Linked DNA regions of Homo sapiens: region 2 is linked to region 1. Evidence: fine-mapped QTL for protein levels in blood plasma. Region 1 holds a variant in brackets. A gene starts in the other region. All regions are shown on their forward strands.

Region 1 (5,379 bases):
TTTTTAAGAGATGGGGGTTTTGCTTTGTTTCCCAGGCTGGTCTTGAACTCCTGGGCTCAAATGATCCTCCTGTCTCAGCCTCTCAAAGTGTTGGGATTACAGGTGTGAGCCACCTCACCCAGCCAAGCATTTGTTAATTAATCAACTGATTCCCTGAGGAATGATGGTGAGTCTAGGAAAGAGACCAGAAAATTAAGATGAGCACTGCCCTCCCTCCCGCAAGGAGGCCTTTGGGAAAGAGACTGCTGCCAAGTTACCACCACATCCACGGCTCTTGAGTTAGAGCTTTATCCTCCAGCAGCCTTCAGAGGTACCACTGTCCCTCCATATCCGTAATGGATTAGTTACAGGATCCCTGTGGATACCAAAATCCAAGGATGCTTAACTCCCTGACATGAAATGGCGCAGCATTTGCATATAACCTCTTGTATACTCTAAATCAGCTCTAAATCACTTATAGTACCTAATACAAACTCACTAAGCTCCAAGCCAATGTGTGTGGCTTTAGGCAAGACATTTAAGCTTGTGGTATCTCCAGGTATTCATCTGTAAATGGACAGGGGAAATAGGGAGGAAGGTTGCGGTCTGCTGGATTCTAAATCCCTCGGGCCAAGGACAGAAATGAGGCAAAGGCTGGTTCAAATCCACTTGTTTGGCAAGTAGTTGGCAATTTCACTGTGCTGCCTTAACCATCATGTTCTCAGCTTTAAGAACTGAGCATCATGAATGAAGGGGAACAGACTTCGTTTGTGTTGCTAAATGGCAAACATGAATTAACAAGGGGGAAAATGCAGCAACAATCAGGCCAACAGAGCATTTTCCAATAAGAAATGTTATTCCCTAGAATTGGCTGCCTTGAAAGGTGCCAAGTGCATGGCCACAGACAATATCCTCCAGCAGAGACATGGTGGAGGAAAATTTCTACACTGTTCAGAAGATCTACACATTTAGAAGGGACCTCTTAGGTTCCTTTCAACTCTAAATTCTATTTTATGAATTACATGACTAAGAAACTATATGTATGCTGAAAAGACTTAAGTGACAAATTATGTTTTTAATAACATTAAGAGCTTGCCAAAAAAAAGAGCTGGCTGTTTAAAATACCTGGTATGATTAAATAAATCTCATTTCACCTATCGTTTCCTTAACATGAGGTAGACCAGTATTTTTGTTCACAAAGGACTGACAAACAGCAGCTAACTGAGAAAGCTGTCAGATTCTGACTTAGAAAAATCTAGCATCCTTCAGCATACATAGTATATTTAGTTGTTCAGTATTAATATGTTTAAAGTTACAGTCACCATCCAAATAAACTAAAGCAGGCTGGGCACAGTGACTCATACCTGTAATCCCAGCACTTTGGGAGGCCGAGGTGGGCGGATCACTTGGGGTCAGGAGCTCAAGACCAGCCTGGCCAACATGGCGAAACCCTGTCTCTACTAAAAATACAAAAATTAGCCAGGTGGTGCACACCTGTAATCCCAGGTACTCGGGAGGCTGAGGCAGGAGAATCGCTTGAACCTGGGAGGTGAAGGCTGCAGTGAGCCAAGATCATGCCACTGCACTCCAGCCTGGGTGAAAGAGCTAGACTCCATCTCAAAAAATAAAATAAAATAAAGCAGCCGGGCGCGGTGGCTCACGCCTGTAATCCCAGCACTTTGGGAGGCCGAGGCCCAGCAGATCACGACATCAGGCGATCGAGACCATCCTGGCTAACACGGTGAAACCCCGTCTCCACTAAAAATAAAAAAAAAATTAAAAAAATTAGCCAGGCATGGTGGCGGGCTCCTGTAGTCCTAACTACTCGGGAGGCTGAGGCAGAAGAATGGCATGAACCCGGGAGGCAGAGCTTGCAGTGGGCCGAGATCACGCCACTGCACTCCAGCCTGGGCGACACAGCGTGACTCCATCTCAAAAATAAAATAAAATAAAGCAACTATGCAGATATCACCAGCTTTTAAATTTTCTTCAAGAAACCCTCTGAATTCAGTCCTTCTGTGAAGAAAGATGCATTACCTGACACACACAGGCAGGCAGTGGAAGACATTCATTAGCTAGAACATTTCAATAGCAAAGCATGCAAAACTGCAAATGCCATCTAGACAAGATCCATGCCTGGAGACATCCAACGTGGCACTTTCAAGGAGACGTGTCCATTTCAAAGTCCTATACACAGGC[A/G]AATTCCTTGGTGATTTTCTTGGGTCTGTCTTCTCTGAGTCCCTTCTAGCTGTAGATCTAAATGCTCGGAAGTAAACAATGACAGTAATGCCACCGAGTGGCACCTGAAATCAACTGTGACTCTCTACGATTCCCCATCCTATTCTACTTCCCTCCATCTTCTTCTTTCCCCGGAAGATGCATTACACCTTCTGGTAATCCCCATGGAAACTACTGTGAAGTCCATTTTAACTCTGCTTCTTTTGTATGAATGGTTTTAAAATTGCTGAGACTTATTTTATTAAAAAAATTAATTTGCTCTTGACACAACTAACTTCACAAACTAATCACCAAATACCTTCCTGGTTTTCCATTTCTACCTCCTGACCTGAATGCTCCTTACCATAGAGATGTGGAGAGCACTGGCTGTAAGTCCAAGTACTGGTTTACGGCAGATGTCTTGGAGATCTATCTCAATAGCCCTCTCAAAACACGTTTGTAATGATGTTGAATATAAAATAACAATTTACATAATAAGGTGCATAAGCACCTCCTTTGCACTATTAATAAATTTTTGTTGGCAATATTTTCTAGGGATAAACATCTAATTATTACAAGCCCATAATCAGAAAAATGTCTTATGAGCGTGACATTCAGGAATTATTTCTTGGAGGTCATCAGGAGTCACAATAGGAGGAAATCGTGCCCTGCTGTTAAAACTCTACCAGAATTCATTAATAAAAGCACTGCTCAGTAGAAATGTAGTCTTTGGTCTCCTGTCTATTTTATCCCCAGGGACAACAGTACGCCCTTTCTTTTCTCTTGCCGCAGTTTTTTACAGAAGCTGTATTTTTTATCATAAAAGGAGGGGAAGCTGCCATTCAAAATTGCTGTTATTTTCCTATTCTGTTTCTCTGGATAAAACAAGACTTCTAAACTAACAAAGGACAATAATCAGTGCGGAGGCAACATACGCTGAAATAAGGAAATGCTGAAAACTAACATTCACCACGCCACACATAAAAAGCAGCTGAAACTCAACGTGAAAGCTAAACCTCAAGATATGACTTCACACAGCTATAACGGGAAACATAAAAGCAACTTGGGATTTCCTCTATTTGAAGGGATGCATTTCCGCTTACTTTGTACTTTCCTTGAACTTGGAGCAGGACATCACTCTTGCATCCCACGCTTCTCAGCTCAGGCTCGGTATCCAAAAAAAGCTCTGTGCCTCTGGGGACCTGGGGCACCCCTCCCCCCTCTAGCCTGCTGGAGCACCCACATGTGCAGAGGCTCACACGAGCATAAATCAAGGGACATGGCTGACACTAAGCACTGCTGAGAGCCTGCACAGCTGCAGACGCTGCTCACAAGTAAAAGAGATACCCCTCTGCAGGAGGCAGCTGCGGTATTTCACTTGCCCCTCTGACCAGGACCCATGCAGTCCTTGGAAGAGCTGGGTGCTCCCTAGGGCAACTGGTATTTTCTGTCTGCTCTTTGGTCACTTCCCATTCTTTTTTACTGGTTTCTGGTGGTTTCCACATGTGGACAAATAGAGCATAATAAAGAGGTCTGCCAGATTTCAGCCTCCTTTCACAGATGAGGCTTGGTTTAAAAGGAAAATGAACGAAAGAAAACTTACAAAACCAACAGCCTGATGGTACTTTTAGGAAAAGGTTAGTATGGTTCTGTATGAATGGTAGGTGACAGCTGGATCTGATTCTCTAAATATACCAGGCCTTTTCCTACAAGACTTTATAATAACTTATTTGTTCTTAAATTCAGGTGGGGCCTCTGGGAGGAAAAGTTGAGTGCAGGAAAATAGAACAAAAATTAATTAACAGTTTCCAACTGTAACATGCTCAGCACTATACACAGAGTGTAAAAGATATAAAATATTGCCCCCGACCTAGAACACACAGTTCTGTGGGGTAAGACAGCCAAATGCCTGAACCAATGACAGAACACTGTGCTCTATCGGATAATCCAGACTGAACTGAATGGCCCAAAAATCACAAACATGCAGAGGGCAGTGGAAATGTTCTTGAACGTTTTAGACAAACAGAACTGTATAATTAATGGATTTTCCCCTTCACAGTACATAAACATTCTGAAAGGTAGTACCTAAATCTGGCACCTACTGAGAAATGCTGACACAGCTGCAATGATTTTTTAGATATTTTTAACTTGTAAAGAGAACAGAGTAAGGAAGTGCACTTTGACCCAATTTTAACCATCTGTAATTTTTTTCTTCCAATCATCCTAACTGGCTTCTAGACCCAAGTGCTAATTTGATTGCAAAAGGAAAGCTGCCAAGAAATTATGGAGGCCTGATTTAAGGACAGCATGTAACCTGAACACATTGCAGTCAAGCAGTGTGTATGAAGAGAGCTATACCTGTAAGGAAAGACTGAAGTTCTAAGACAGCAGAGGCAGAATCCAGCCTCCTCCACTGGGCGCTGGAGCAAAATTTTAGAAAGGTTACCCAGGGAATCTTGACAGGGGACTGCAACATGCTCAGAGGCAGCCAGAGGTGCTCAACCAGCCTTAGGGCACATCAAACAACCTCCAGTGAGAACTCTCCACCCTTCTTAATCCCAAAATGTTAAAATCAACTCCACATCCATTCTTTTTAAATAACTTTAATCCTCACAACGACATCAAAACATTTTAAGCACTATCCACTCCACTTTTGGCTGATCGAAAGACTTAACAGTAGACATTATTTCCTCTACACATAAAACACTGTTACCTCTACCCCAGCAACTTACGGAGATTAATTTTTCTCCCATCCCCACTCTACACCAACTTTATTCCAAGAAGGACTTAACGTGAGAATATACAAACATTAGGAAAGTTTTTTTTTTTTCTTTTTTTTTTGAGACTGAGTCTTGCTCTGTCACCCAGGCTAGAGTGTAGTGGCGTGATCTTGGCTCACTGCAGCCTCTGCCTCCCGGGTTCCAGCAATTCTCCTGCCCCAGCCTCCCAGGTAGCTGGGATTACAGGCATGCACCACTACACCCAGTTATTTTTGTATTTTTAGTAGAAACGGGTTTCACCATGTTGGCCAGGCTGGTCTCGAACTCCTGACCTCAGATGATCCACCTACCTCGACCTCTCAAAGTGCTAGGATTACAGGCGTGAGCCACCATGCCTGGCCAAGGTTTTAAATCTTATGTACTTTAAAACATTTTAAGACATGTTTGTCAGGGTGTCAAACCT
Region 2 (5,379 bases), not on the chromosome of region 1:
AATTAAACTGGTCGACATGTTTAAAGATGAGAAATAAGATGTTTGCATTGTAAAGTTGAGTAATAGCTAATAAATGCACACTTCCTTCCATTAATATAAATCTGGAACAATTTATGGTAAACAAAAATCTATCCGCGTTATCAGTAATCTAACAGTGCATACTTTTACTGAACACTTCCTGTGAGCCAGGCCTCGTAGTAAACATCTGAACATGCAATTTCACATTCAGTGTGGAATAAGAAGTGTCATAGGTTCGCGTGTTTTTCACAACTGATTATGATGTCCATGATGACAGCGTGCACTAAGCGCTGTGTCCAACCAACCCTTTACCTGGCATTTTAGCCAGCAAGACCCGCTTGCATTGCAGTCGTTCACGGTGCTCGCTGGCACAATTTTAGAATGTTACATGAATACTCAGGCCTGACTAACCTTCCCCTCCAAAAAACAACAAAACAGAACAAGGCTAAGCCTTTACTACTCAGAGACACATCTGTAAGACCCCACAGGGACAAGAAAAGTAGCTGTGATCTAGGTCTGCACTAAAGCTGCCTTTCCTGGCACTCAGAAGTGCCCTTCCAGGCCTAACTGCAGAAGGGTGGCCTCAGCCTCCTCCTCCTCCTCCTTGGCTTCCTCCTCACGGATCTGCACCAGCAACTGAAAGAGGTTTGGGGCTGGCCCTTCCCCAGCCCCGGTAAGCCACAGCTGCCTTCGGATGGCCCCGCTGTGGTTGGCCCCGGCAATGACCTGCTCTAGGCGGGCCTGGTTCACATTATCTTTATCAATGGCCCCCTTCTCTACCACCTTCTGTAGCAGAGGCTCCAGACGAATGACATAAGCAGACAATTTTTCTCCCGGGTTCTGATAAGTGTTCAGAAATTTGATCTGGGCATCCCTAGAGCTCTCAACGCTCCCAAACACCTGCTCAAGCGCCTTCAGGCATTCGGCAGTGGTTATCGCGGGGTTGTTGGACTTAAGGATGCGAATAACATCAGCGGCGGGGCCTCTAAGACTCTCCATCAACCGCCGCCTCTTTTCTACATCGGACACCTGCCACTCCTCTAGGACCTCATTAGTGTGCTCCAGCCAGGGATCAAAGGTTTCCTCTCCAGGCCCTGGGATGTCCCTCCCCGAGAAAAGTGTCAGCCTCTTGTACCATATGGACTCAACAAGAGGCTGAATAACATTATCCAAAATATAGTTTAGCATCTCTGCTGGCATCTCTGGGCCCGGGGTCGGAGTAGGGTTCTGAAACCCAAGGACACGGGCAACATCTTGCACGGTCCACCCCTCTCTAGCTAGGAAGAGGTGCAATCTTTCTAAAAATTCAGCATCAGAAGTTGGGGGCTTAAATAACACTTTCCAGACCCCTCCTTTGCCCGGCATCTCCCTGGGGATCGCGGCGTAATCTACAGCGCCAGTGAGCTCTAATAAGGCTGCTTTCGCATTTTCTTCCCTCCAGAACATTCTCCCAAGCATTCGGTAGGAGACCTGGGGCATCGCAGCCTGGAGGGTCTCTTCGATTTCAGCCTCATCACAGTTCACTGGGATGCCCCAGACTAACAGAGCTCTCTGGGAGTTCACATCCATCCCCCGGCACCAGTCTTCCAACAGTGTCATCGCCATTTTCTCAACTATCAAGACGCCAAATTCTACCAACAGACTGTGGCTCACCGTGCTCCTGGCCTTAGAACAATACCAGACACTCCCACCAAGTAGGCCCGAGGGAGGCGACCTTCATGCAGTCACGATTAACAAAGACAGAGTCCTGATCTCGCCCTTCTCTGCCCCCACAGTCAGTCCGTAGGTGCACTCGGAGCCGAGCTCGGGGACGCTGAGGCAGTCACGCGGCCGTCGCCATCTTGCGTCTGGGTCTGGGTCCGGTCGGGTCCGCCGCCTGCAGCAGGGGCGTCGCGTCGTCGTGCAGCGGGCGAGGAGCGACGGCGGGCGGCGAAGGCAGGCGCGCTGGGCCGAGAGCCGCCGGGGTGTGGTCGCGGGGCGTGGCCGCCGGGCGCTCGCTGCGGCTCCTGGAGAGGATCGGGCGTTCGCGGTCGCAGCCTGGTCTTCCCGCGGGCGAGGAGCGGCCGTTTGGGAGACTAGCCAGAGGGAGAAACTGTGCCGAAGTCGCGGCGGCTGCGGGCCAGCGGAAAGCGGCTTCTTGGCGGGCGCGGGGACTCCTCTGGGCGGGCGGCGAGGACGGCCGAGGACCAGAAACGAAGGCAGCAGAGGAGCAGGAAAGTCGGAGAAGCGAGGCTGGAGACAGCAGAGGCGAGGGTGGGAAGGGGCGGCCGCGGCGGCCCGCAGCGGTTCAGGCGCTGCGCGGCTGCTCTGGCGTCCAGTCCTACCCGCAACCCGCCGCGACGTTACTGCTGCAGTGGAGGATGGGGCCAGCCGGCGAGCGGCGTCCGCCCCGCCCCGCCCCGTCCCGCCCCCGCGGCGGAGCTGCTCGGGCGTCTCCATGGCAACGGTGTCCCAGCCGGCGCGAGGCACGCCTGCTCCGGCGGCTCGCGGGGGTCGAGCGGTTGCCGTGGAGCCAGCGAGGGGCTCGGGCATTTGTTTCTCTGATGGCGCATTTCCTTTTTCATAATTTAGCATTTTAACAGTAAACAACTACTACTAAGCACCGTGTTTTAAAAATAATAACCCAATCCTGGAGTGGATTTAAGATGATATTGTTGGAAATGCATCCCTCATGGTGGACTTGTCTACTCGGGTTGCTCAGCCAGTCCACCCTGCACGTGAAAATACTCTCCTCAGAACCCTGGCTTCCCGTTGCCCCTGACCACACTGTGCACCCTGCATATTTCATCCCAATGAAGCCAAAATGTCGGAGTGCGCCATTTCTGTGTATTTGTGTGAGACACTGAGTTTAGACTTTTTCTTGTCTAAAATTTTGTAAAAATCTGTCTGTGTCTACTGAGTCATCTTTTAGCCAGGCAAACATTAGTGTATTATTTTCCTTTTCCTGGCTGGCATCATTGACAATAGGCTGCTAAAAGAGAATCCTTATGGTTCAAAAATGTCGAGTAATCTCCCTGCAAGCAAGACAAGGCGCACTTACATCAACCCCAGATGGTGAAAATCCCAAGAGAACAAAGCATTCAACTCTGAATTTTTAAAACCTTATTTAATAAAAGGTTTAAAGATACAGAAGAACATTCAAAAGTAAATAAGTTACATAGGTACATTACAATCACATCAGCAAGATTCTTTAGTGTATTAATTTTTTTCTTATAAAAAGCACACAAAAAATAAAATCTTCAGTCTCTATCACAACTGTACAGCAAAAGAGGTAATATTTATATATGTACACTATTTTAATATGTAACAGTCTTTTTAAAAAAGGATGCCACAGGCAGCAAACACACAAAAGGCAGTGTCTGATCATTTTTGTTTCAAAATAAAAGGAATATACTTATTTATATGCTATTAAAATATCTGTACAATAATTACAGACTGTCAAGGCTGTTCCTGTGCTCTGTCCCCTCCAACAAAGCCTTCAACTTAGAGACAAATGAGGAAAAAGTGAAACAGCTGCAAATTGTTAGAAGCAAATATTAACATAGCAAAATGTGGGGAGGACACAATTGTTTTATAAAAATATCCCTACTTCCTGTAAACCTATGGAGTTAGGCTTGCCAGTCTGATAATAAATACCGTCCCAGAAAAGCGAGCCCCAGTGAAAACAACTAAACAGGCTGAGGCTTGAGTATGTGTTGTATTCCTCCTTCATCTTAACATCTGGCACATGAGAAGAAAGAGGTTAGGTCACTGAGGCAGTTAAATATAGGTGATCCCTTTAGACATAAGCAGCAGAAGACCTTGGTGCCAGGGGTGGAGGCGCGGCAGAAGGGGTGGTATGTACCTTAGCTGTGAGGGGGGCTGCTGAAGGCATGGAGGACAGTAATGACGGCTGTGCCTCCTTGGATGGTGGAGACCTCAGAAATGGTCTGCAACACAGGCACTAGGTCAGTTTCCCGCCCTTAGCTGAATGCAGATGGATGCTGGGAGATGGATATGGTGAGATGGTGTGGGGAGGATGTTAGAAAGCTGGAGGTGTTTATCACTTCTCAAGGAGCTCTGAATATAGGGGGAAAAAAACAACAAAAAGACAAGCCCAGGGAGAAAGCACCATTAAGGATATACCTATGCCAGCTTCTATAGCTGCACCTGCTTTATTGGCAGGTCACTTGCCACAATTGCATCTGCCCTCTAAACTTTTTAATTTTCACACTGTATCCTAGACATGAATGCATAAAATACAGTGTCTGGCGGGATAATGCAGAGAGGTACCATCTTGATTTTCCCCAGTTACATTCACCTGGTCTGGTCTCTGTAAGCTTAGAAGAGTAGAATCACTTTATTTTTTAAAGACTTCCGGCCAGGCACGGTGGTTCACGCCTGTAATGCCAGCACTTTGGGAGGCCGAGGCGGGTGGACCACCTGAGGTCAGGAGTTCAAGACCAGCCTGGCCGACATGGCGAAACCCTGTCTCTACTAAAAAAAAAAATACAAAAAGATTAGCTGGGTGTGGTGGTGTGTGCCTATAATCCCAGCTACTCAGGAGGCTGAGGCAGGAGAATTCTTTTAACCCAAGAGGCGGAGGTTGCAGTGAGCCAAGATCACACCACTGCACTCCAGCCTGGGCGACAGAATGAGACTCTGTCTCAAAAAAAAAAAAAAAAAAAAAAAAAAATTTTTTTTCCAAGTACAAGATGTTACCACTGACAAAAGGGTCTCATATGAATGATGGAGGTTTCTGTTACCGTATGCCCATAAAGGGGCCTGAAACCAAATATGATTTGAATAGAAAAGACCTTGGGAAACATAAGTAGCACTTTGGGGCTAAGCTGCGAAGGCACTCGTATTGTACAAGTAATTTCGAAGAGAGCCTAAATTTGCTACCCCCCTGCTTCTACAGGGTATACCAGATTTTTGCTGTCTTGGGACACTGAGCTCATGGAAGCCTGTGGAGGAAACTAACCGGTAAGCTGGGGATCTAGGTAGTCATCCAAGAGTCTGGAGGGAGAAGAAATTTGTTACTTCCACAGCTGGGGTCCTGTAGAACCATACTAATGTACAAATGGATGCTGAAAAATACCTGCATAGTTTCAAAACAAAACTCCCTCTCCACTCCCAGTTACTGACATGATGCTTCTTGGCTATCTCATAAGGAGTAGCAGTATGAATACTTTCTGGCTCCTTCCTAATACGTTGACCTGTCATACGCGCATTCACTTAGAATTTCTTTTGCACAACTAAAGTTGAATAAGATCAGAAAAATAGCTGAGCCCCGCTATGGGACTGGAAGTGAAGGGGCCTCCAGAACCTCCTGGCCCTTTCACTTCACCCATGCCAAATATGGCTTCTTCAAGCCAGAAT

Alleles and levels. Positions count from the first base shown, and alleles are read on the strand shown. Strength reflects both the effect of a copy and how common the allele is.
With allele G in place of A in region 1, the plasma level of the protein whose gene starts at base 2,368 in region 2 is lower (weak association).

What was found. PIP is the posterior inclusion probability: the model's chance that the variant is causal. Protein levels are from antibody-based Olink assays in UK Biobank. Linkage for the fine-mapping came from a reference panel and not from the study's own genotypes, which makes the PIPs less certain.
Region 2: it holds the start of PNMA1, and the variant in region 1 is fine-mapped to the plasma level of the PNMA1 protein (UK Biobank, PIP 0.96).

The regions. Positions count from the first base shown.
Region 1 is chr10:34,777,708-34,783,086 of GRCh38, forward strand. All of the region lies in intron 1 of PARD3 (par-3 family cell polarity regulator), which reads right to left. Among named protein-coding and RNA genes, the nearest start is that of PARD3, 35 kb to the right of the region's middle. RefSeq lists enhancers at 1,139-1,639, 1,640-2,140, 3,275-3,404, 3,615-3,674. The variant A/G (reference allele first, on the strand shown) is at 2,179.
Region 2 is chr14:73,712,017-73,717,395 of GRCh38, forward strand. PNMA1 (PNMA family member 1) reads right to left here and starts at 2,368. Exons shown (of 1, transcript NM_006029.5): 1 at 1-2,368. The coding sequence starts at 1,623. The coding sequence ends at 562. It overlaps MIDEAS (mitotic deacetylase associated SANT domain protein), which reads right to left. Exons shown (of 13, transcript NM_001367710.1): 13 at 3,106-5,379. RefSeq lists enhancers at 1,764-1,823, 2,764-2,833 and silencers at 1,914-2,083, 2,264-2,543.